Regions from separate parts of the Homo sapiens genome. Here region 1 is linked to region 2. The links come from fine-mapping of genetic effects on gene expression. A gene starts in region 2. The other region holds a variant in brackets. All regions are shown on one strand. Distances are from middle to middle.

Region 1 (16,383 bases), 31 kb before region 2:
TAGCTGGGATTACAGGCTTGTACCACCACACTCAGCTAATTTTTTCTTTTTTGAGACGAAGTTTTGCTCTTGTTGCCCAGGCTGGAGTGCAATGGCGCGATCTTGGCTCGCTGTAACCTCTGCCTCCCGTGTTCAGGTGATTCTCCTGCCTCAGCCTCCCGAGTAGCTGGGATTACATGCATGCGCCACCACGCCCTGCTAACTTTGTATTTTTAGTAGAGACAAAGTTTCTCCATGTTGGTCAGGCTGGTCTCAAACTCCTGACCTCAGCTGATCAGCCTGCTTCGGCCTCCCAAAGTGCTGGGATTACAGGTGTGAGCCACCGCACCTGGCCAGACCCAGCTAATTTTAAAATTTTTGTTGAGATAGAGTCTCACTATGTTGCCCAGGCTGGTCTTGAATGCTGGGACTCAAGCGATTCTCCTGCCTCCACCTCCCAAAGTGTTGGGATTTTACAGGCATGAGCCACCACACCTGGCCCTATTTGAGATTTTTACTCTTTTGATTAAAGTGTTTGCTTCCCTTTGTAGTATGTGCTTCTCTGTCTCATTCTTCACCATCTTTTTGTCTTAGTGAAAAGTGTCATCATAAATGAAGAAGAAAACACTGTGCTTATAGCCTGAATCAGCTCATATTTCTCCATTTCCATAGCCACTGGCCTAGTCCAAGCCACTCTCATCTCTCCTGGATGTCTTCCGTGACCTCAGTTTGGTCTTTTCTTTTTCTTTTTTTTTTTTTTTGAGATGGAGTCTTGCTCTGTCACCCAGGCTGGATTGCAGTGGCATGATCTCGGCTCACTGTAACCTCTGTCTGCTGGGTTCAGGAGATTCTCCTGCCTCAGCCTTCCGAGTAGCTGGGATTACAGGCATGCACCACCATGCCCTGCTAACTTTGTATTTTTAGTAGAGACGGGGTTTCGCCATGTTGGTCAGGCTGGTCTCGAACTCCTGACCTCATGATCCGCTGGCCTCGGCCTCCAAAAGTGCTGGGATTACAGGCTTGAGGCCCCACGCCCAGCTCAGTTTGGTCTTTTTCTGTATATATTGCAGACCTTCTACTACCCATTCTCCACACAGTGGTCAAAGGAGTCTTCTTCATTCCAGTGGCGTGTGGAGCAACCAGACCTCTCACACTAAGAACTACAGAAAACTGGCAATATCTATTAGCGCTGAATACTTGCATGTCTTAAGAATCAGCAGTTTTACTGCTAGGTTTTTATCCAATAGAAATGCACACGTATTTGTACCTAAATACATCTACAAGAATATTTATAGCAGCATTATTTGCAAAAAAACCAAACTGGGAATGATCCAGATCTCCTTCAACAGTAGAATGGGCCGGGCACAGTGGCTTATGCCTGTAATCCCAGTACTCTGGGAGGCCGAGGCAGGCGGATCACCTAAGGTTGGGAGTTCAAAACCAGCCTGACCAATATCGCGAAACCCCGTCTCTACTAAAAATACAAAAATTAACTGGGCACGGTGGCACATGCCTGTAATCCCAGCTACTCAGGAGGCTGAGGCAGGAGAATCATGTGAACCTGGGAGTCAGAGGTTGCAGTGAGCCGAGATGGCGCCATTGTACTCCAGCCTGGGTGACAGAGCGAGACTCTGTTTCAAAAAAAACAAAAAAGCAAAAAAGCAAAAAAACAAACAAACAAACAGTAGAATGTATAAATGAGGTATAGTCACATAATAGAATGTATAAGAAAAAAAGAAAACTACAGCTACACCTGATAATATGGGTGGCTCTCACAAACGTAATATGGAGCTAAAGAAGCCAGACACAGGCCAGGCGCGGTGGCTCACGCTCGTAATCCCAGCACTTGGGGAGGCCGAGGTGGGTGGATCACCTGAGGTCGGGAGTGCGAGACCAGCCTGACCAACATGGCGAAACCCCCATCTCTACTAAAGTAAATACAAAAATTAGCCAGGCGTGGTGGCTCATGCCTGTAACCCCAGCTACTCTGGAGGCTGAGGCATGAGAATCATTTGAACCTGGGAGGCGGAGGTTGCAGTGAGCTGAGATAGCGCCACTGCACTCCAGCCTGGGCAACAGCTCCGTCTCAAAAAAAAGCCAGACACATACTCTATCATTCCATTTGTGTAAAGTGCAAAATAAGCCAAACTCGTCTATGGGGTTAGAAGACAGAATAGTGGTTACGCTTGTTGGTGAAGTGATTCTGGGGTTCCGTGTGTGGTGAGAAGCATGTCTGGGCTTCTGGTAATGATCTGTTTCTTGACCTGGGCTCAGATGTGCTCACTTTGTAAAAGTTTGTTGAGCTGTGTACTAAGGATCTGGGTACTTGTCTGTGTGACTTAAATAAAAAGTTTTAAACCGTCAAAAAACAAAGTGCCAAAAGTCCTTCAATAGGGCATGGCGCGGTGGCTCACTCCTGTAATCCCAGCACTTTAGGAGGCCGAGGCGGGTGGATCACAAGGTCAGGAGATCGAGACCATCCTGGCTAACACGGTGAAACCCCATCTCTACTAAAAATACAAAAAAAAAAAATTTGCTGTGCGTGGTGGCGGGCGCCTGTAGTCCCAGCTACTCGGGAGGCTGAGGCAGGAGAATGGCGTGAACCCAAGAGGTGGAGCTTGTAGTGAACCGAGATCGCACCACTGCACTGCAGCCCGGGCGACACAGTGAGATTCCGTCTCAAAAAAAAAAAAAAGTCCTTCAATAGTTTTCTGTTGTACTTATAATAATAAAAATTCAAATGACTCCACTGTGGCTTTTCAGGGTGTTCCAGGCCTAGCCTCTGCCCTCCTCAGACCTCATCTCATTACATCTCACCTCACCGGCCACCTGTCTGATCCTCAGAAGTGTAGAGCTTGTTCCCACCTTAGGCTTTGTACTACCAGCCCCTAGTGTCTGCAACACTCACACCTTCTTCTTGTCATTTGGGTCTCAGTTCAGACATCACCTCATAGAGCCTGTCCCTGAAAATCCTATAAAAAGTGGCATCTGCTTTGCCTAGGAGCTCTTCATGCCAGCACCATTTCATTTTATTTTTATTTTTTACTTTTGAGACAGAGTTTCACTCTTGTTGCCCAGGCTGGAGTACAATGGTGCAATCTTGGTTCACTGCAACCTCCGCCTCTCGGGTTCAAGCAATTCTCCTGCCTCAGCTTCCTGAGTAGCTGGGACTACAGGCATGCGCCACCACGCCTGGCTAATTTTTGTATTTTTAGTAGAGACAGGATTTCTGCATGTTGGTCAGGCTGGTCGTGAACTCCTGACCTCGGTGATCCGCCTGCCTCAGCCTCCCAAAGTGCTGGGATTACAGGCATGAGCCACTGCGCCCGGCCGATGGTACCTACTTCTATCTGAAATTGCCTTGCCTAGTTCTATACTTCATTCAATGACTTTTTTATTTTTTATTTTCTTGAGACAAGGTCTTGCTCTGTTGCCCAGGCTGGAGTGCAGTGGCGCGTGGTCATAGCTCACTGCAATCTTTCATTTCTGGGCCCAAACTAGGACTACAGGCACACGCTGCCATTCCATGACTATTAATTGGGTGTCTGTTTAGTGCAAGGTGCTGGTCTAGCACTGGGTACATAGTGGCCAACAAAGCAGGCAGTGCTTGCTCTCGTGGGACTTCCAGCCTTGCTTCCGTGAGACTGGTGGCCTTACCAAAGGGAACACAAGCTTCAGGGAGAGCAGGAACCTGTCTGTGTCCCTGTGATATACAGCAGTGCTTATTTATTTGTTTATTTATGTATGAGATGGAGTCTTGCTCTGTCGCCCAGGCTGGAGCACAATGGCGCAATCTCGCCTCACTGCAACCTCTGCCTCCCGGGTTCTCCTGCCTCAGTCTCCCGAGTAGCTGGGATTACAGGCGCCCGCCACTATGCCTGGCTAATTTTTGTATATTTCTTTAAGTAGAGACGGGGTTTCACCATGTTGGCCAGGCTGGTCTTGAACTCCTGACCTCAGGTGATTGGCCCGCCTCGGCCTCCCAAAGTGTTGGGATTACAGGCGTAAGCCACCATGCCCACCGGGTGGTGCTTCTTGAGAGTGACTCTGGGCACAGAGGTGGAGGGAAGGCAGCTGTGAATGCATATTTGGGGAAGGCAGACTCAGGGAGCTCCGCTGAAGCAAGCTGGTTAGATGGGGCAGAGGAGTGTGGGGAGACAGGGGTGGTTCAGGTTGCAGAGGGAGCACCCCGTGACAATGGCTAAGTGTGTCAGCCTGAGAGGAGTGTGACTCTCAAAGAGAGTTGAGTTTAGAGCGATAGAGTAGAGTACAGCAGCCAAGAATCCATGCAGGAGGAGGGAGTAGAAGAAAAGATACTAGAGAGTAAGAGGGGATTGTTGGTTAAAGGAGAGGTATCCTCTTTTAGCAAATAGAGGTGTGACCAGCGAGGTGTGACCAGCAAAAGGGACCAAGGGGAGCTCTCCCCTGGAGAATGTCATTAGCCAACTGTCCTGAGAAGTGGGGAACTGTGCTGGGTAGATCTTTTGTCTTTATCGCATGAAGATATTAAACGAGGTTGACCATCCCAAAGTTTCCCTGAATGGGTGGAGAGTTGGAAGATGGGGGTTAGTAAATTGGGGAAATCTGTGTCTCCTTTTCCTCCACTTCTGACAGATCCTAGTCTTGGCCAGGCGTGGTGGCTCACATCTATAATTCTAGCACTTTGGGAGGCTGAGGCAGGAGGATCACTTGAATCCAGGAGTTTGAGACCAGTCTGGGCAACACAGAGATACTCCGTCTCTACAAAAAATGTAAGCTGGGGCGGTGGCTCACATCTGTAATCCCAGCACTTTGGGAGGCCGAGGGGGGCGGATCACCTGAGGTCAGGAGTTCGAGACCAGCCTAGCCAACGTGGCGAAACCCTGTCTCTACTGAAAATGCAAAAATTAGCTGGGTGTGGTGGCACGTGACCGTAATCCCAGCTACTCAGGAGGCTGAGGCAGGAGAATTGCTTAAACCCAGGAGACAGAGGTTGCAGTGAACGGAGATGGCGCCACTGCACTCCAGCCTGGGCGACAGAGCGAGACTCCGTCTCAAAAAAATAATAATAATAAAAATAAATAAAATATTTAAAAGTTAGCTGGGTGTGGTGATGCCCACCTGTGGTTCCAGCTGCTCGGAGGCTGAGGTGGGAGGACTGCTTGGGCCCAGGAGGTTGGGGCTACAGTGAGCCATGTTCGCACCACCACACTCCAGCCTGGGCAACAGAGAGAGACCCTGTCTCAAAAAAAAAAAAAAACAAAAAACAAACACAAAAACCAACCCCCACCTCCGCCCCTGGCAAATAGATTCTCATCTCCCGGAAGACGACTTGAGGGCATCCTCCCTGCCATACTGACCTAAGTTCTGAGTTTATCCTTAGCAGTCCGCACAGATTGGGCTTCCAGAAATGTGGGGTGAGAGTGAATGGACGTGGAGGCAAGCGAGGGTGACTGATCCGTGAGGGCAGTCCCTGGCTCTGGGTAATTTCACTGCGCCCCACCCTCATGCCTGTTATTATCCTGCCCCGATGACGTCTCTGACAACCAGCTGCTCCTTCTGCCTCGACCATTGTAGTGAGGTTTTCCCAGCATCTGCTCAACAGTGGGGACAGGGAGGACAGGCAGGACATGCTCCCTACCCGGTAGGGGAGCTCTTTAGAGCAGTGAGGCTCTCGTCCTTTCTGTGCCCCACAGACATTCAGCTTGGGACCCTGGGGCTCCTCCAGGACTGACTCCAGAGGGCTGCTAGCCCCCACGAAGCCATTGCCATCCTCTCCCAAGCAACCATTCTTATTCCTCTCTCCCTCTCCCTCCTGTTCAGAACCCCTTAGGTGGCACCCAGCCAGCTGGCCCGGGCTCCCCTGCCAGCCTTCTCACCATTAGGCCCCCGCCAATGAAGCCGCCCATGAGCCAGACTTGCAAGCTGAGATGGTTGGTGTTGGTCCAGGAGGTCTCCCCATTAGGTACCAGCAGGAGGGCGTTGGCCACAATGCAGACGAGGCAGAGGGTAATGAGGGAGAGCCCCACACAGCGGGCACATTTTCCCGTACACATGGTGAGGTGTCAGGAAGGACAGGCGGTGAGTGAAAGTAAGCCAGTGGTTCCCAGGTCCAGAGGAAAACAAGCCTGGAGCACGGAGCAAAGTTCAGACAGAGGCGTGGCAGAAACTGGCAGGATCAGAATGATAAGGGAGAGAGGCACAGGATGTGGGCCCTGAGGAGGCAGAGGCGGAGGAGCTGCAGCCCTGAGGTGAAGGGAGGATGTGGTGCTGGACAAGGTGGGGGCTATGGACACATTACCCTGGGTTAGTGCCTTCCTGTTTTTTCTGCACAGCTCCACAGCCCCTCTGTTGGTTCCATACCTGCTTTGCAACTTAGCCAAGCCCCTTCATGTCTCTTAAGTCTCAGTTGCCACTTGTGTCTGGGCACGGTGGCTCACACCTGTAATCCCAGCACTTTGGGAGGCCGAGGAGGGTGGATCACCTGAGGTCAGGAGTTTGAGACCAGCCTGGCCAACGTGGTGAAACCCCGTCACTACTAAAAATGCAAAAGTTATCTGTGCATGGTGGCGGGCACCTGTAATCCCAGCTATTCGAGAGGCTGAAGCAGGAGGATCACTTGAACCTGGAAGGTGGAGGTTGCAGTGAGCTGAGATTGTGCCATTGCACTCCAGCCTGGGTGACAAGAGTGAAACTCTGTCTCGAAAAATAAATAAATAAGTAAATAAAGTGACAAGAATGAAACTCTGTCTCAAAAAGTAAATAAATAAATAAATAAATAAATAGATAAATAAATAAGTGATGCCACTTGCCTTGTGGGCTACTTGTGAGGATTAAATGGGACAACCTGAGAAGTATTTTGTAAACTAGGAAGCACAGAGCAGATGTGTGGTGGCCTCTTCGTTTCTGCCAGCCTCTCAGGCAGCATTCTTCCCAGGGAGAAATTAAAGAGGTGATTGTGGGCTCTTATTGTCCTTGCATTTCGTCTTCCTGGTATTTGATTATTGATGTCTCCTCCTCTTGAGGCCACTGCCTGTCTCTCAGGGTGGGCTCGGGACCTAGGCCTCATTGATGAGAGCGTTCTATCCTGCTAGCCTCGGTGTTTGATTTAGCAACAGCCATGCGATCTGAGCCAACTCTGTGAGAATCAGCTTCTGCCATTTTTCCATTCTGAGGTCAAAGAAGTTCTGTTTTTGTTGGGGTGCTGCAGTTTCCTTGATAACTTCTTTTTTTTTTGAGACGGAGTCTCACTCTGCCGCCCAGGCTGGAGAGCAGTGGCGTGATCTTGGCTCACTGCAACCTCCGCCTCCTGGGTTCAAGCGATTCTCCTGCCTCAGCCTCCCAAGTAGCTGGGATTACAGGCGCCCACCACCACACCCAGCTAATTTTTGTATTTTTAGTAGAGACGGGGTTTCACCATGTTGGCCAGGCTGGTCTCAAACTCCTCACCTCAAATGATCCACCTGCCTCAGCCTCCCAAAGTGCTGGGATTACAAGCATGAGCCAAGCCACCCAGTCGACTTCTTTTTTTTTTAATTAAAAAAATGTTTTTGAGACCAGGGTCTCCCTTTGTTGCCCAGGCTGGTGTGGAGTGGATCATGGCTCCCTGCAGCCCTGACCACCTGGGCTCAAGTGATCCTCCCACCTCAGCCTCCCGAGTAGCTAGGACTATAGGTGTGTGCCACCACACCTGGCTAATGGTTTTTTGTTGTTTTTTTTTTGAGATGGAGTCTTGCTCTGTCACCCAGGCTGGAGTTTAGTGGTGTGATCTCGGCTCACTGCAACCTCTGCCTCCTGGGTCTCAGAAGCAAACAGGAGAGTGAAGGCCCCCACAGAATGAGCCCTAGCTCAAGTAGGATGTGGGAGTGCCATGAAGAGATGAGGGTAGCAGGAAGGGCTGCAGGGCTTCAGAGGGTATGCAATGAGGCTGTCACCTGGAAAGTGTCACCAGCCAGTGGCCCCTGATGCAGCCCCTCCTTGCGGCCCACTCAGACCACTACAGAAATGTGGAAAATGGAGAAAAGCCAGAATCTCTGCTATTTATAAGACAGAGGAACTGGATTGAGAAAAATACATGGAGAATTTACCTCTTGAATCAGAGGATGCCTGAAAAAGAAAATACTTTGAACCTCCCCAACTATTTGTCTCTGACTCATAGGTAATTATGATGACTGATACATTTGGTTTTGCTTCTGTTGGCATGTTTAATGCTTTAAACAACATTTCCATATTGCTTCTGATGTTTTCTGT[T/C]CCTCTTCTTTTTTGTTTTTTGAGACAGAGTTTTGCTCTTGTTGCCCAGGCTGGAGTGCAGTGGTGCGATCATGGCTCACTGCAACCTCCACCTCCCAAGTTCAAGCAATTCTCCTGCCTCAGCCTCCCGAGTAGCTGGGATTATAGGCATGCGACACCACGCCCAGCTAATTTTGTATTTTTAGTAGAGACGGGGTTTCTCCATGTTGGCCAGGCTAGTCTCGAACTCCCGACCTCAGATGATCCCCGCCTCGGCCTCCGAAAACGCTGGGATTACAGGCATGAACCACTGCGCCCAGCCTCTGTCCCTTTTCTTTAAAGATTTTACATTATCCTTTTTTTTTTTTTTTTGAGACAGGGTCTCTGTCACTCAGACTAGAGTGCCATGGTAAGATAATCATGGCTCGCTGCAGCTATGACCTCCTAGCTCAAGCTGTCTTCCCACTTCAGCTTCCTTAGTAGCCAGGATTACAGGCCCACACCACCACACTCAACTAATTTAAAAAATTTCTTTTGGCCGGGCGCAGTAGCTCACGCCTGTAATCCCAGCACTTTGGGAGGACAAGGTGGGCAGATCATGAGGTCAGGAGATCGAGACCATCCTGGCTACCGTGGTGAAACCCTGTCTCTACTAAAAATACAAAAAAAATTAGCTGGGTGTGGTGGCAGGCACCTGTAATCCCAGCTAGTCGGGAGGCTGAGGCAGGAGAATTGCTTGAACCCGGGAGATGGAGGTTGCAGTGAGCCGAGATTGCACCACTGGACTCCAGCCTGGGTGACAGAGGAAGACTCCATCTAGAAAAAAAAAAAAAAGATACAAGGAAAAGGGTCACATTGGATCCCACCCTAGATCACCTGACCCCCAGCCAACTCCTATGTGTGTATCAGTGAAATAAATGCTTATATTTATTTGACACTAAGACTTCGTCGAGGGGGATGGTTTGTTGCCCAGTAACAAGTTCCTAACACAGACCCCCTTATCTAGGCCAGGGCTGGTTGATTGAGGAACAAGTAGCTGACCCAAAGGCAGACATGTAGCCAGCGACCTGTGAGGTCTCTCGAGGTGAGAACTCCATCCAACAGAGGTACACTGACTGGATAATGACCAATCCACCGACTGGATCTTCATGATTGGGAAATGTGTCTGTGAGACAAGCTGAGACAGTCATCAGAGAGTGGGGTGGCTTCAAACTGAGAGTTGTATGCAAGAAAGAAGCAATCAAAAGCCAGAGGCAACTGACACCAGAAATAAGCAGAAGTCACAGCAAGAGAAGTGTATGGAGAATAGTTACTCTGAAACAGCGCCAGAGGGAGAAGCACAGGCACTGGAAAACTCTGGTTCCTCAGGAGGTGGCCGATGAGAGGTTGTCACCAGCACTAATGTTGAACTACCAGAGCAACTGTCATATCCCGAATAGTGGCCCTTCCAACCGTGGACCTGAAGAGGGGATTCAGCCATTGATCTGATGGACAGAGAGCAGGGCCAAGAGCTGGCCACCTATTTGTCTACAAGTTGCTCAAGCTGATTCTGAGAGATGGTGCCTCTTTTTTATTTTTTTTTAAACAGAGTTTCACTCTTATTGCCCAGGCTGCAGTGCAGTGGCGTGATCTCGGCTCACCGCCACCTCCGCCTCCCGGGTTCAGGAGACTCAAGTAGTTGGGATTACAGGTGCCCGCCACCACGCTTGGCTCATTTTTGTATTTTTTGTGGAGATGAAGACAGGGTTTCTCCATGTTGGCCAGGCTGCTCTCGAACTCCTGATCTCAGGTGATCCACCCACCTCGGTCTCCCAAAATGCTGGGATTACAGGTGTGAGCCACTGCGGCCAGCCAAATGGTGTCTGTTTTGAGGATGAATAAAGAGAAAAAAAATAGTTGTGTGGGTGGGGTGGTCCACAGGCATTCATTACATTATTTTTATACAATTCTGGATGAATGAAATAATGTTAATAATGTTAACAAAACATTATAGGGATTCTGAAAAATTTTCTCAAAACCAGGGAAGGGCAAATCAACCTGAAGACTGAAAGAAACAGAATCCTCTGGAGGAACATTTACTATAGGATTTGGAAGAGATTTCCAGGAAGATTTTTGATGACATCACTAGAATTCTCCTGGAACTAGGAACAGAATAACTTAAGAAAGAAAAGGCTGGCCGGGCGCGGTGGCTCACGCCTGTAATCCCAGCACTTTGGGAGGCCAAGCTCGGTGAATCACCTGAGGTCAGGAGTTTGAGACCAGCCTGGCCAACATGGCGAAACCCCATCTTCACAAAAAATACAAAAATTAGACAAGTGTGATGGCAGGCACCTGTAATCCCAGCTACTCAGGAGGCTGAGGCAGGAGAATCGCTTGAACCCGGGAGGTGGGGGTTGCAGTGAGCCGAGATCGCACCATTGCACCCCAGTATGGGCAACAGAGCAAGACTCCATCTCAAAAAAAAAAAAAAAAAAAAGGTCCAGGCTCAGTGGGTCACGCTTGTAATCCCAGCACTTTGGGAGGCCGAGGCGGGCAGATCACCTGAGGTCAGGAATTCGAGACCAGCCTGACCAACATGGGGAAACCCCGTCTCTACTAAAAATACAAAAATTAGCTGGGCATGGTGGCGGGTGCCTGTAATCCCCGCTACTCAGGAGGTTTAGGCAGGAGAATCGCTTGAACCCGGGAGGTGGAGATTGCAGTGAGCCAAGATCACGCCATTGCGCTTCAGCCTGGGTGACAGAGTGAGACTCTGGCTCAAAAAAAAAAAAAAAAAAATTCAGGAAACTGGCTTCTCCTAAGAACAAGAATAGAACTGGTGGAAGTGACACCACAGTTAAAACATCTGCACTAGGAGAAGACGTCACTGAGCGCAGATAGATCCACTCAGGTCAGTGGGTTGAAAGTTATACTGCACGGCAGGTAAAATATTAAAAGTCAGCTGACCATAGATTCATCCTGACAAAATATCTGAATTAAAGGATACATCTAGGCAGAATTTAAAAAGGCTACTTAGAAAGAAACAATAGTTGGTGTGGCCAGAGTCTTCTCTGAAATACTGAATGTCAGAGGACAAAGGAGTAAGGCAGCTGTGTCCACCAAAAAAGGTAGAACTATCATATACATGTCTAAGTTGCATTTTGTATGTTAAGGGCAACACAATTGCATTTCTGAGAATGTTTGGATTTCAAAATAACACTTTGGCTCCTTTTTTTTAGAGAAATTGTGTTGACTCACCAAGAGATGAAGTAAAATAAAAACCCCAAAATGGGGAAGTCTTGACGTAAGTCTAAATAAATTTCATATATCTGGTTACAAAACTGGATGCACATTTTGGAAAAAAATATTTTTCTTCTCTTTTGTTTTGAGTCAGAGTCTTGCTCTGTCATGCAGGCTGGAGTGCAGTGGCGTCATCTTGACTCTGCAACCTCAGCCTTCTGAGTTCAAGCGATTCTCCTGCCTTAGCCCCCCAAGTAGCTGGGATTACAAGCATGGGCCACCAGGCCTGGCTAATTTTTATATTTTTAGTAGAGACTAAGTTTCACCATGTTGGAGGGTGGTCTTGAACTCCTGACCTCAAGTGATCCACCTGTCTTGGCCTCCCAAAGTGCTGGGATTACAGGTATGAGCCACCACAACCCGGCCAGAGCCATTGTGCCCAGTCTCATTTTTTTTTAAAGACAGTGTCTCACTCTGTTGTCCAGACTGGTGTGCAGTGGCATGATCTTGGCTCACTGCAAACTCTATCTCCTGGGCTCAAGTGATCGTCCTGCCTCAGCCTGCCAAGTAACTGGGACTACAGATGTTCACCACCCACCATGCTTGTCTAATCTTTTTGTGTGTATATATGTAAATATATATATATATATTTTTTTTGAGACAGAGTTTCACTCTTGTTGCCCAGGCTGGAGTGCAATGGCGCAATCTCAGCTTACTGCAACTTCTGCCTCCCAGGTTCAAGCGATTCTCCTGCCTCAGCCTCCCTAGTAGCTAGGATTACAGGCATGTGCCACCACGCCCGGCTAATTTTGTATTTTTAGTAGAGACAGGGTTTCTCCATGTTGGTCAGGCTGGTCTCAAACTCCCGACCTCAGGTGATCCGCCCACTTCGGCCTCCGAAAGTGCTGGGATTACAAGTGTGAGCCACCGAGCCCAGCCATCATTTTGTATTTTTTGTAGAAATGGGGTTTCATTTTGTTGCCCAAGTGGTCTTGAACTCCTGGGCTCAAGAAATCTGCACACATAGGCTTCCCAAAGTGTTGGGATTACAGGCGTGAGCCACTGCACCTAGCCCCGTAAAAATTTCTTTTGAAGTGGCCGGGCGTGGTGGCTCACGCCTGTAATCCCAGCACTTTGGGAGGCCGAGGTAGGCGGCTCACCTGAGGTCGGGAGTTTGAGACCAGCCGGACCCACATGGAGAAACCCCATCTCTACTAAAAATACAAAATTAGCTGGACTTGGTAGCGCATGCCTGTAATCCCAGCTACTTGGGAAGGCTGAGGCAGGAGAATCGCTTGAACCTGGGAGGTGGAGATTGCAGTGAGCCAAGATCGCGCCATTGCACTCCAGCCTGGGCAAGAGCAAAACTCTGTCTCAAAAAAAAAAAAAAAAAAAAAAATTCTTTTAAAGGGCAGCTGTATAATGTAAATTCTAAAAATGATATTAATACTATTAAATATGTCATTATTGCTTGCCATACTCTGGGTCCATTGTAAGGAACTATACCAGGTAACAGAAAACCCAACTCTATTGCAACAAAAAGGGAATTTATTGGTTCAAGCAATCAAAACATCCAGTAGGACTGAAGTAGGACTAACTGCAGGTGCAGTTTGGTCCAGAAGTTCAGGATGTCATCAGTGTTCTTGTTTCTCTGCCATTCTCTCTGCTGTTCCTTTTTTTGGCTTTGACTTCCTCCTTAAGTGGGATCTTCCTCCTGACAGTAGTATTAGCTGCAGCAGTTCAGACCTTATGTCTTTACACCCTACCACCAGGAGGAAGAGAATCTCCTCGCATAGCTTTCCCTGAGTAGAGAGGAAGTTTCTTTCCCATTTACCCCAGAAAATTTCTCCTTGGTGCAGACTGGGTTCTATGTCTGTCCCTTACACGGATCACTGTGGCCAGAGGGTAGAACATGCTGTATGAGTCTGTTCTCACGCTGCTAATAAAGACATACCCGAGACTGGTACTTTATAGAGGAAAGAGGTTTAATTGACTCACAGTTTAGCATGGCTGGGGAGGCCTTAGGAAACTTACAATCATGGCGGAAGGGGAAGCAAACATGTCCTTCTTCACATGGAGGCATTCCAGCACAGGGGGTGTTGTCAATTCTGTCTAAGCCACCAGGCTGGGAAATTAAGGGCAGTATTAGGAAGGAGGAAAGACAGAATGAATGATGGGGAGGCATCCAGCGAATATCCTCTCCAGGGAATCTGTCTAAACTCTGTGGCTCCGTACTCACTGCCCATAGCTGAGTAGCACATGCTTGACCTAGTATGTGACAGAGATAGTGAGTTAGTCCCAGTCTTCTGCTTTTATTATAGTAGCAGACTTTGTAGTCTGCTGCTAAAGGCACATGGCTGCTAAGCTAGAGACTATATTTTCGGCCAAGCCCGGTGGCTCACGCCTGTAATCCCAGCACTTCGGGAGGCTGAGGCGGGTGGATCACCTGAGGTCAGGAGTTTGAGACCAGCCTGGCCAACATGGTGAAACCTCATCTCTACTAAAAATACAAAAATTAGCCAGGCGTGGTGTCTCACGTCTGTAATCCCAGCACTTTGGGAGGCCAAGGCAGGTGGATCACCTGAGGTTGGGAGTTTGAGGCCAGCCTGACCAATATGGAGAAACCCCATCTCTATAAAAATACAAAATTAGCCGGGCGTAGTGGCACATGCCTGTAATCCCAGCTACTCCGGAGGCTGAGGCAGGAGAATCGCTTGAACCTGGGAGGCGGAGGTTGCAATGAGCTGAGATCATGCCACTGCATGCACTCTAGCCTGGGCGACAGAGCGAGACCCCGTGTCAAAACAACAACAACAACAAAAAAACCCTATTTTTTCTAACTTCTTTTGTAGCTGTGGCCATGCGTTGTCACATAGTTATGGCTTATGGGAAGGAGTGTAAATGATTTGATCAACTTTGTTTCCTTTTTGTGAGAATGCTGCTAGTTGATCTTACCTTACTGCAATGTTGGTTTTAAGGCATAATGCAGATGTTTTCTGTAAGTTTTATGAGATCCCCACAACAAAGTATTCAATTTATTTATAATTTCAGCTTTTATTTTAGATTTGGGGGTACATGTGCAGGTTTGTCATAAGGGTATATTGTGTGATGTTGAGGTTTAGGAACATGATTAATCCTGTCACCCAGGTACTGAGCATAGGACCCAGTAGTTTTTTTGGTTTTTTGTTTTTTTGAGACAGCGTCTCACTTTGTCACCCAGGCTGGAGTGCAGTGGCACGATCTCGGCTCACTGCAACCTCGGCCTCCTGGGTTCAAGCGATTCTCCTGCCTCAGCCTCCCAAGTAGCTGAGATTACAGGCGCATGCCACCACATCTGACTAATTTTGGTATTTTTAGTAGAGATGGCGTTTCACCATGTTGACTAGGCTGGTCTCAAACTCCTGACCTCAGGTGATCCACCCGCCTCAGCCTCCCAAAGTGCTGGGATTACAGGCATGAGCCACCGCACCCGGCCAGAACCCAGTAGTTTTTTCAACCCTTTCCCCACTCTCTCCCTTCCCCTCTGGAGGCCCCAGTGTCAATTGTTTACATCCTTATGTCCATGTGCACCCAGTGCTTAGCTCCCACTTGTAAGTGAGAACATGCAATATTTGGTTTTCAGTTCGTGTGTTAATTGGCTTAGAATAATGGCCTCCAGCTGTATCCATATTGCTGCAAAGGACATGAATTTGTTCTTTTTTAATGGCTGCAACAATCAACTTTGGTGGTAGACTTTAAGGAATGAGCTTCCCTTTCCTCATCCTGCTGGCTGGAATGTAGGCCAGGAGTTGAACCGTTTGGACTCTTTGGTGAGGACAACCCTTAGAGATGGTGGAACAACAATATCAGGATTCTGGGCTCCCGAACAACCTAGAAGAGCAGGAGTGCCGCTGTGGGCCACCTGCCTCCTTACTATTTATTTATTTATTTATTTTGTGAGACGGAGTCTCGCTCTGTTGCCCAGGCTGGAGTGCAGTGGTGCGACCTTGGCTCACTGCAATCTCTGCCTCCTGGGTTCAAGCAATTCTCCTGCCTCAGCCTCCCAACTAGCTGGGATTGCAGGTGGGCACCACCACACCTGGCTAATTTGTGTATTTTTAGTAGAGACGGGGTTTCACCATGTTGGCCAGGCTGGTCTCGAACTCCTGACCTCAAATGACCCACTCCCCTCGGCCTCCCAAAAAGTGCTGGGATTACAGGCGTGAAGCACCGGGCCCGGCAGCCTCGTTACTATTTTGTGAGCAAGAAATAAACTTCTACTCTATTTGAGACATTGGTAATTTCAGTCTTCGTTTAAAGCAGTGGAAGTTACCAGAAATTTGTAAACTGTACCATAAGCTGAGTGTCCAGGCCAATTAGATTTGCTTTCTCCTAGGATATAAACTGGGAAAAATGGAAAATTTTCCAGTGGTTTCTAGACTTTAAATTGGTTATGAGAATACTGTGAAATTGAGTCAGTGACGTTTATTTCTTTTCTTTTCTTTTTTTTTTTTTGAGACAGAGTCTCACTCCCAGGCTGGAGTGCAGTGGTGCAATCTGGGCTCACTGCAACCTCCACCTCCCGAATTCAAGTGATTCTCCTGCCTCAGCCTCCCAAGTAGCTGGGATTACAGGCGCGCATCACCAAGCCCAGCTAATTTTTTGTATTTTTAGTAGAGATGGGGTTTCATCGTGTTGGTCAGGCTGGTCTCGAACTCCTGACCTCAGGTGATACACCCACCTCGGTCTCCCAAAGTGTTGTGATTACAGGTGTGAGCCACCTGCTTGGCCTATTTGTTAAATATTTAGCATATTTCAAATTTTTTTTTTGATACAGAATCTTACTCTGTCACGCAGGCTATAGTACAGCAGTGGTGTGATCTTGGCTCACTAAAACCTCAGCCTCCTGAGTAGTTGGGACTACAGCCATGTGTCACCACGCCTGGCTAATTTTTTGTATTTTTAGTAGAGATGGGGTTTCACCATGTTGGCCAGGCT
Region 2 (8,619 bases):
GAGGCCCCGAGAGGCCAGGAAGGCCTCTTTGTTGAAGGTTTCACTGGTCACCTCTGGAGAAGGAGAAGGGGAGGAGTTGAGGTGCTGGGCTAGAACCCCAGACATTTTTTTTTTTTTGAGACAGAGTCTTGCTCTATCACCCAAGCTAGAGTGCAGTGGCGTGATCACGGGACACTACAGCCTCGACCTCTTGGACTCAAACGATTCTCCCACCTCAGTCTCCCGAGAATTGTGACCACAAGCGAGTGCACCATGCCTGACTAATTTTTTCTATTTTTTGTAGAGACAGAGTCTATGTTGCCCAGGCTGATCTCAAATTCCTGGGCTCAAGTTGGCCTCCCAAAGTGCTGGGATTACGGGTGTGAACCATTGCCCGGCCTAGAACCCCAGCCTTGAACTCTCCCTAGCCTCCCGCGAGGACCCTGGTTCTAAGTCTGGTTCCAGTCAGGCCGGGAACTACCATTTCTGAGTGCCTCCAGCGTACCAGGCACCAAGCCAAGATAATCCTTGTAACAATTCCATGGGCCTTCTCCGTATCCCTCATGAGGACACGGAAGCTTCAAGAAGTAAAGTGGTTTGTTTAAGGTCACACTGCAGTTAGTGGTGGAGCTGGGAAGCAAGTAAGTGTTTGAATCCCTGTCCCCCAATCCCTGCACGCTCTCAGGGACCCAGACACTCAGGCCTCGGCTTCAGAGACCCTGTCTCCAGCCCCAAACACCCAGCCCCTGCCCTTGTTCCAGGGATCTAGGCTCTAGCCCCAGACACTCAGCCTTCAACTGCAGGACCCTGTTCCCAGACATCTAATTCCCAGTCTCAAAGACCTGGTCCCAGTTTCCCCCAACCATTCTGACCTCCTTATGGTACCTGCGGTGTAGGTAAAAGGCAGGGTTGCCAGTTCTCCTGCCCGCTCCATGAAGGCTGCAAGCCTTGGGCACCAAAATCGGTGACTCACATCATCTGGGCACCGCTGCCAGTCAGCCCGGAGACAAGCCTCTCCACAATACAAGACAGCACTACACTGGGGGCTGGGGACACAGCGGGTGGTGGGCACCTAGTGTTAACCTCTGTAGGTCCTGTCTGCTGTTCAACTGCCCAGCAGCTGCCCATATGTCACTCGGTCTGTTTGTCTTACACCCTCTAACCGCCTGTAACAGTCTGTATTGTTTCCTCTGCATCTTCTCATGTCCCTGCCTCTCCTTCTGTCTGCTAGGCGCCCCCCACCACCCTGCCTTCCTTCTATTTGCCTATTGGGGTCTTCCTCTCCCCCAGCTTTGGGGCTGCTCACCAAGGTGTCAGCTTCGCTTCAAAGCTGTGCCTGTGACACACATGGCAGGTTCGAGCACGAAGGGAAGCAAAGGTGAAGCCTGGCCGGGGACCCCATGTCCGCATTGGGGTTTTGGCTAACTTCACACCTAGCCTTGGGACCAAGCTCTCCAGCTCTCTAAATGCAGTTGGGGGGGAGATGGCATCAGGCTGGAGGAGGTGCTTGGGAATCCAGGGCCCGAGTCCTCCCCAGCCTCAGATACCAGATTTCTATACCGATGCAGCCGGGCATCTCCCACAGTAAGCTGTCGGGGCTTTCGGGGATCCCCAGAGCCCATGGGACAGGCCATGCTGTGACAGAGGAGAGCATAGGCCCAAGGAGCCAGGTCCTTGGTCCCTGAGCCCCAGCTTGCGGTTCCCTGGGCTCCATCCACTAGCAGATCAATGCCCAAGATGGTGCCATGCTCATCCGTCACAAGTAAGAGACAGGAAACGTGCAGGGGGGCAGCCTCTGGGGAAAGAGGGAAAAGTTGAGGTGGTAGGGGGCAGCGAGAGACAAATGTGGTCAGGGTCAGGAGTACCAAACTCAAATACCTACGGGGCTAGGCAAGTAACCTCACTGAGTAAAGGGCTCTGGGTAGAGAGGGCACGCTCCTTCTAAAGGGGACAGCTGCTACAGAGGACCAGAATGCGCTGCCATGCAGAAATGTAGGCCCACTGTCAGAGCTTGAGATTTTTCTTGGGAATGTGTAAATCCAGACTTCTGGATACTTTTTTTCTTGCAATGTTTAAACATTAAATTAAAAAAAAAAACCCCACTGTGGGTCAATAAAAACACCTTTTCAGGCCAGATTGGCCTGAAGGCCAGCACTCAGAACTAGTGGCAGGGGAGGGCTTCCGAAGGGAGGATGGCTGGGCAAGGGGTAGGGCAGGGCCAGCCCTGGGTTCTTACCACTCCTCTGTCCCTTCCTCTTCTGGGGTCTTGTTTCGTTCTCCACCCTGTCCTCTCGGCAGCCATCCTTGCCACCTCCTGCCTCCCGGGCAGCCTCCTCTGACTCTCCTGGAGGGTTTGTTTCCTGGGGGGACTCCCTGCTGGTAGGGGCTAGCTCCCGGTCCTCCTCTGGTTCCACCTTCTCTGTGCTGCCTGCACCCCCGTCCTCTCTCTTCTCTTCTTCTTCATCTTCCTCCTCTTCCTCCTCCCCTTCCTCCCCATCCTCTAGGCTGACAAAGCTGATGTAGGGGCTCAGGTCTCGCAGGTGGAGTGGAGGGTTGTCTCCCAGGAGCCAGGCAGTCCCCAGGCCTGGTCCAGGACCTGGTTCTGCCCCTTGCCCCAGGCTGATGCCCACACTATGGTTGGGCAGGACATGGAGCACCCAAAGGGCAGGGTCCTGGGGTAGCCTTCTGATCTGGGCCTCCAGCTGCCGGCAGCGGCCCTCAAGGCTAGTCCCTACAGCTCCACGCTCTGCCACAAACTTTCGGAACCAGCCGAAGAGAAGGGCAGTGAAATCAAGGAACTCATCCCGGTATCCAGACACAAACTCCATGTCTTCAGCGGCACAGGGCCCCGGCCCAGACTGAGCAAAAGAAGGGATATATGGTGAGGGACAGGAGAGCAATGATGGAGTTTGGGGCTGGGTCACAAATTGAGGGAGAGGGTAGGTTTGAGAGTCACTTAGGGTTGGATCCGTGGATATGCTAGGAGCGGAGAAGAGGATTTTTCAGGGCTGAGGATGGGAGTTTAGGGAGGAAAATGGGGGCTGGACTTGAAAGTGGGTGACCAGGGTTGGAGAAGACTACTCAGGGATGAGATGGTATTTGGGGCTTAAAATTGGAGAGTTCACACCCTCAAAAGCAGAGTTTAAATTAAGGCTAGAGAGGAGAGAGGGCTAATCCTATCGGGAACGGTTTGGTGGGGAGGGAAGCATTTTGGATGCGTCTGTGGGGTATGGGAGTGGGAGCGAGGGGGTTCCCTGGGCTCGGATCTGCGTGGCGGGCAGCCCCGGTAGACCTAGCCCCTCCCGGCCGCCCCACTCCTCCGGTACCTGCAGCCGCCACCACTTTTCGAAGGTAAATACCTCGCGGTGGAGGGTGCGCGGGTGCGGTTGTGACGTCAGGGCTGCCCGAGCCCTCGCCGGCTCAGCGGGCGGCCACGCCCCCCGGGCTCGGTGCGTCCGCGGGTGGCTGCCCCGCAGGTGCGCGCGGCCGGGGCTGGCGGCGACTCTCTCCACCGGGCCGCCCGGGAGGCTCATGCAGCGCGGCTGGGTCCCGCGGCGCCCGGATCGGGGAAGTGAAAGTGCCTCGGAGGAGGAGGGCCGGTCCGGCAGTGCAGCCGCCTCACAGGTCGGCGGACGGGCCAGGCGGGCGGCCTCCTGAACCGAACCGAATCGGCTCCTCGGGCCGTCGTCCTCCCGCCCCTCCTCGCCCGCCGCCGGAGTTTTCTTTCGGTTTCTTCCAAGATTCCTGGCCTTCCCTCGACGGAGCCGGGCCCAGTGCGGGGGCGCAGGGCGCGGGAGCTCCACCTCCTCGGCTTTCCCTGCGTCCAGAGGCTGGCATGGCGCGGGCCGAGTACTGAGCGCACGGTCGGGGCACAGCAGGGCCGGGGGGTGCAGCTGGCTCGCGCCTCCTCTCCGGCCGCCGTCTCCTCCGGTCCCCGGCGAAAGCCATTGAGACACCAGCTGGACGTCACGCGCCGGAGCATGTCTGGGAGTCAGAGCGAGGTGGCTCCATCCCCGCAGAGTCCGCGGAGCCCCGAGATGGGACGGGACTTGCGGCCCGGGTCCCGCGTGCTCCTGCTCCTGCTTCTGCTCCTGCTGGTGTACCTGACTCAGCCAGGTTAGCCGGGGGCGGGGCAGGGGACCCAGATTCCCCTGTCACGGGAAGGGGGTGAGTTGGGGAGGGGACACGAGGCCCACGGAGTTGAGTGGATGAAGGCAGCGGGGACAAGAGGAAAGCCAGCCAGCCGCCTGGGGTTGGGGACAGAGGCCCGGGGACGCCTGGCTCCGGGCGGGATTATGGATGTTGTCGGGGGCGTGATGATGTGTGGGTTGAGCCTGGCGCTCTGACCCTGGGTCCACCGAGAGGCTGTCATGGGGCTGTGGATTGGATGCCAGGGAACAGCGGAGTGGGGACCCTGGGCCTGGGAATGGGTGCCGACCACCTCCGTCCCGCGCAGGCAATGGCAACGAGGGCAGCGTCACTGGAAGTTGTTATTGTGGTAAAAGAATTTCTTCCGACTCCCCGCCATCGGTTCAGTTCATGAATCGTCTCCGGAAACACCTGAGAGCTTACCATCGGTGTCTATACTACACGAGGTAATTTTACCTGCCTCTGCGAGGGCAGCGCCTGGGCGGCCCCTCCTTGCAGGTGCCTCCAGGACCCTCTCTGGTCCAGCCTGAACTCCTTCCCGGCTCACCGAGCCCCATCTCCGGGTTCCGTTTGCTCTCATTCCCCGAAACTTCATGACTCCGTCTCACCTACTGGGGAGTTTCCCAGTCCCAGGAGAAAGGGCTCTTTCTTGGTGGCAACTTCACGCCTCTGGAATGAGGAAGGAGCCGGGGAAGGAAAGAAGGCGCCGCAGCTAAGCCCAGGTCTCTCCTCCGCAGGTTCCAGCTCCTTTCCTGGAGCGTGTGTGGGGGCAACAAGGACCCATGGGTTCAGGAATTGATGAGCTGTCTTGATCTCAAAGGTGAGACTTTTCCACTGCTCTTCAGGCTCTGCCTCCAGGGCTTAGCAGCTTCCACCTGACAGTTTTCTTTACCTGAGCCTTTTCCCCTGGGGCCGCACATTCCTAGAACCTTCTTCTGATCCTGTCCAAAGTACTTAGACTCGAGTCCCTGTTTGCCAAACGGGGTGATCATTCACCATCACCTTCATGAGTTTTGCCAATTCATTCTACCACGTGTGCTATTGTCTACTTATTAATATTTTTCTTGAAATCAAAGTACTATTTTATTTTATTTTTTTGAGATGGAGTCTCACTCTGTCACCCAGGCTGGAGTGCAGTGGCACGATCTTGGCTCACTGCAACCTCTGCCTCCCAGGTTCAAGAGATTCTCCTGCCTCAGCCTCCTGAGTAGCTGGGATTACAGGCGCGCACCACCAAGCCTGGCTAATTTTTGTATTTTTAGTAGAGACAGGGTTTCACCATGTTGGCCAGGCTGGTCTCGAACTCCTGGCCTTGTGATCCACCCGCCTCGGCCTCCAAAAGTGCTAGGATTACAGGCGTGAGCCACCACACCTGGCCTATTTTTCTTTTCCAATATTTTATTATGAAAATTTACACATATACAAAAGTTGAAAGAATGGCACACTGAATATCCAGTGCCTCCACCTAGATTCTACAATTTTATTTATATATGTATATTTTACATATTTACATAAACATATATTTTACACTATCAATTTTACAGCAATTACACGATATTTGCTTTATTAAGTATCCATCTATTCATTCTTCTATCCATCATCCATCACCTTATTTCTTGATGCATTTCTTTTTTTTTTTTTTTTTTTTTTTTAATGGAGTCTTGCTCTGTCGCCCAGGCTGGAGTGCAATGGTGCCCTCAGCTCACTGCAGCCTCCGCCTCCCAGGTTCAAGCAATTCTCCTGCCACAGCCTTCCGAGTAGCTGGGATTGCAGGTGCCCGCCACCATGCCCAGCTAATTTTTGTATTTTTTTAGTAGAGATGGGGTTTCACCGTGTTGGTCAGGCTGGTCTCAAACTCCTGACCTCAGGTGATCCACCTGCCTCAGCCTCCCAAAGTGCTGGGATTACAGGTGTGAACCGCAGTGCCCGGCCTCTTGATGCATTTCAAGGCAGATTGTGGACATCATTGCACTTCATCCCAAGACATTTCAGCATGTATATTAAGTAGAGTTCAATATTTTAATGCTTTTTTTTCTTTTGAGTTCAAATTTACATACAATGAAATGAATTACTTTTAAGTGTGCACAAACTAGTTTTGAAAACTTAAGTAGAGGCCAGGACGGTGGCTCACTCCTGTAATCCTAGCTCTTTGGGAGGTTGAGGCCGGTGGATCACCTGAGGTCAGGAGTTTGAGACCAGCCTGACCAACATGGTAAAACCCCATCTCTACTAAAAATACAAAATTAGCCAGGCATGGTGGCATGTGCCTGTAATTCCAGCTACTCAGGAGGTTGAGGCAGGAGAATCACTTGAACCTGGAGGCGGAGGTTGCAGTGAGCCGAGATCAGGCCATTGCACTCCAGCCTGGGCAACAAAAAAAAAGAAAGAAAACTTAAATAGTAAATTATCCTAAGCAATAATATCTGTGAAGTCACAAGTTTGATGCATTGGTTATATTTTTCTCTTAAAATAAATATACAACCATTAAAATACAAAAGGTTCTTCCATGTCCTAGCTAAAGTTTTGTAGGATCTGTGTCATCCATACTGCCTTTAAGTCTGCCTAGACCTCTATGATTTCCTTTCATCCTCCCAGGAACCCTGGCCCTTGGTACTACAATTATCCTCATTTTACAGCTGGAAGATATCACTTCCGGAGAGGTTAGGGACAAGGGGTGAGGTTACACAGCTACTTGAGGTTACACAGCTACTTTACAGCAGAGCTTGGAATCCAACCCTGGTCTTCTGATTTCCCAGTTCATGACACCCACTTGTCTCGTGGTTCGCTCACTTCCTTGTCCCCTACCTTTTCCGTCTGTCATCTGCCTTCCTCTTCTGGCCTTCAGCGTGATAACCTCCCTGACTCACTCTTCCCTCTGTTGGAGCTCAGAACATGACACTCCAAAACATGGCACCTTGGTAATTACGAAAACAGCAGAAGTAAGTAGCTCACTCTGCTCTGTTTTTCTGTGAGAGCTGGCCATAAAGGAATTCTCTAACTTCACGTGGAAGTAGGTCATAGGCTCTCATTTCAGATGGGTCCTGCCCTATACTTGGAGGCCAAGAAGAATCTGGACAGGCCTTGCTGGTCCCCCACCCCCCATTTATTGCCATTAGATCATACCCTTTTTGTCCAATCATACTTCTTTTTTTTTTTTGAGATGGAGTTTCGCTCTTGTTGCCCAGGCTGGAATGCAGTTGTGCAATCTTGGCTCACTGCAACCTCCACCTCCTGGGTTCAGGCGATTCTGCCTCAGCCTCCCATGTAGCTGGGATTACAGGCACATGACACCATGCCTGGCTAATTTTGTATTTTTAGTAGAGACTGGGTTTCTCCATGTTGGTCAGACTGGTCTCGAACTCCCGACCTCAGGTGATCCACCCACCTCAGCCTCCCAAAGTGCTGGGATTACAGGCGTGAACCACCGCGCCCGGCCAATCCAATCATACGTCTATACAGCTGTCCATTCTTCACAGCAAGCCTAAGCATAAAAATGCACTTTTCTCGGGTCTTTGTTTCTGAAGGTTCCTATGTCATGTAAAACTGTGATTAAATAAATGTTAGGCTTTTCTCTTGTTAATGTTTTTTATTTATAGGGGTATCAGCCTTGACCCTTGCGATGGGTGAGGAAAAGATATTACTTTTTCTCCCCTACACCTCTATCTGCTTTTTCACCTTGTCTCCTGATAGTCCTGATTCCTCATTTCTTTCCTTTCCAGAATGTGGACATGCTTACTCGGGGATTGTGGCCCACCAGAAGCATTTACTTCCTACCAGCCCCCCAATTTCTCAGGCCTCAGAGGGGGCATCTTCAGATATCCACACCCCTGCCCAGATGCTCCTGTCCACCTTGCAGTCCACTCAGCGCCCCACCCTCCCAGTAGGATCACTGTCCTCGGACAAAGAGCTCACTCGTCCCAATGAAACCACCATTCACACTGCGGGCCACAGTCTGGCAGCTGGGCCTGAGGCTGGGGAGAACCAGAAGCAGCCGGAAAAAAATGCTGGTCCCACAGCCAGGACATCAGCCACAGTGCCAGTCCTGTGCCTCCTGGCCATCATCTTCATCCTCACCGCAGCCCTTTCCTATGTGCTGTGCAAGAGGAGGAGGGGGCAGTCACCGCAGTCCTCTCCAGGTAAACTGGACCTTTGAACCCTCCCCCCAGGGACCCAGAGCCTTCCTGACAGGCATCCTGACCCAGTGGCTCTCAGGTGGCTGGAAACCTGGCCTTGGCACACAAGTATCAAGGTTGTCTGCACAAGGTTGACTCTGGGCCCTCTGAGGACAGTCAGTCGGGGACTGTAGACAGTGGAGAGGGAAGGAAGCCACCACAGGCACAAGGACTAGTGCTTGGAGCAACATCATGGAGAAGATGGCTAGAGCAAGCTAGTGGGAGATGAAGCTGTGGAGGGAGGTGAGGGCCAGTCATTCAATTCACAAATTTTCACTGAGCACCTACTGTGGGCCAGGTCATAGTGTTGATGTCTTCA

Alleles and levels. Positions count from the first base shown, and alleles are read on the strand shown. Sizes are in standard deviations (SD) of each study's normalised expression.
With allele T in place of C in region 1, the expression in macrophages of the gene that starts at base 3,523 in region 2 is higher (moderate effect, 0.49 SD a copy in Nedelec 2016).

Evidence for each region.
Region 1: its variant is fine-mapped to the expression of ZMYND15 in macrophages (Nedelec 2016, PIP 0.95).

The regions. Positions count from the first base shown.
Region 1 is chr17:4,761,554-4,777,936 of GRCh38, reverse strand. TM4SF5 (transmembrane 4 L six family member 5) reads right to left here and starts at 6,051. Exons shown (of 5, transcript NM_003963.3): 1 at 5,838-6,051. The coding sequence starts at 6,014. RefSeq lists a silencer at 13,711-13,873. The variant T/C (reference allele first, on the strand shown) is at 8,209.
Region 2 is chr17:4,734,737-4,743,355 of GRCh38, reverse strand. It overlaps ZMYND15 (zinc finger MYND-type containing 15), which reads right to left and starts at 3,523. Exons shown (of 14, transcript NM_001136046.3): 1 at 3,306-3,523; 2 at 2,216-2,837; 3 at 1,540-1,774; 4 at 1,286-1,441; 5 at 865-1,025; 6 at 1-53. The coding sequence starts at 2,807. CXCL16 (C-X-C motif chemokine ligand 16) reads left to right here and starts at 3,428. Exons shown (of 6, transcript NM_001386809.1): 1 at 3,428-4,095; 2 at 4,436-4,574; 3 at 4,866-4,948; 4 at 7,848-8,264. The coding sequence starts at 4,017. RefSeq lists a silencer at 3,337-3,556 and enhancers at 3,105-4,009, 4,010-4,915.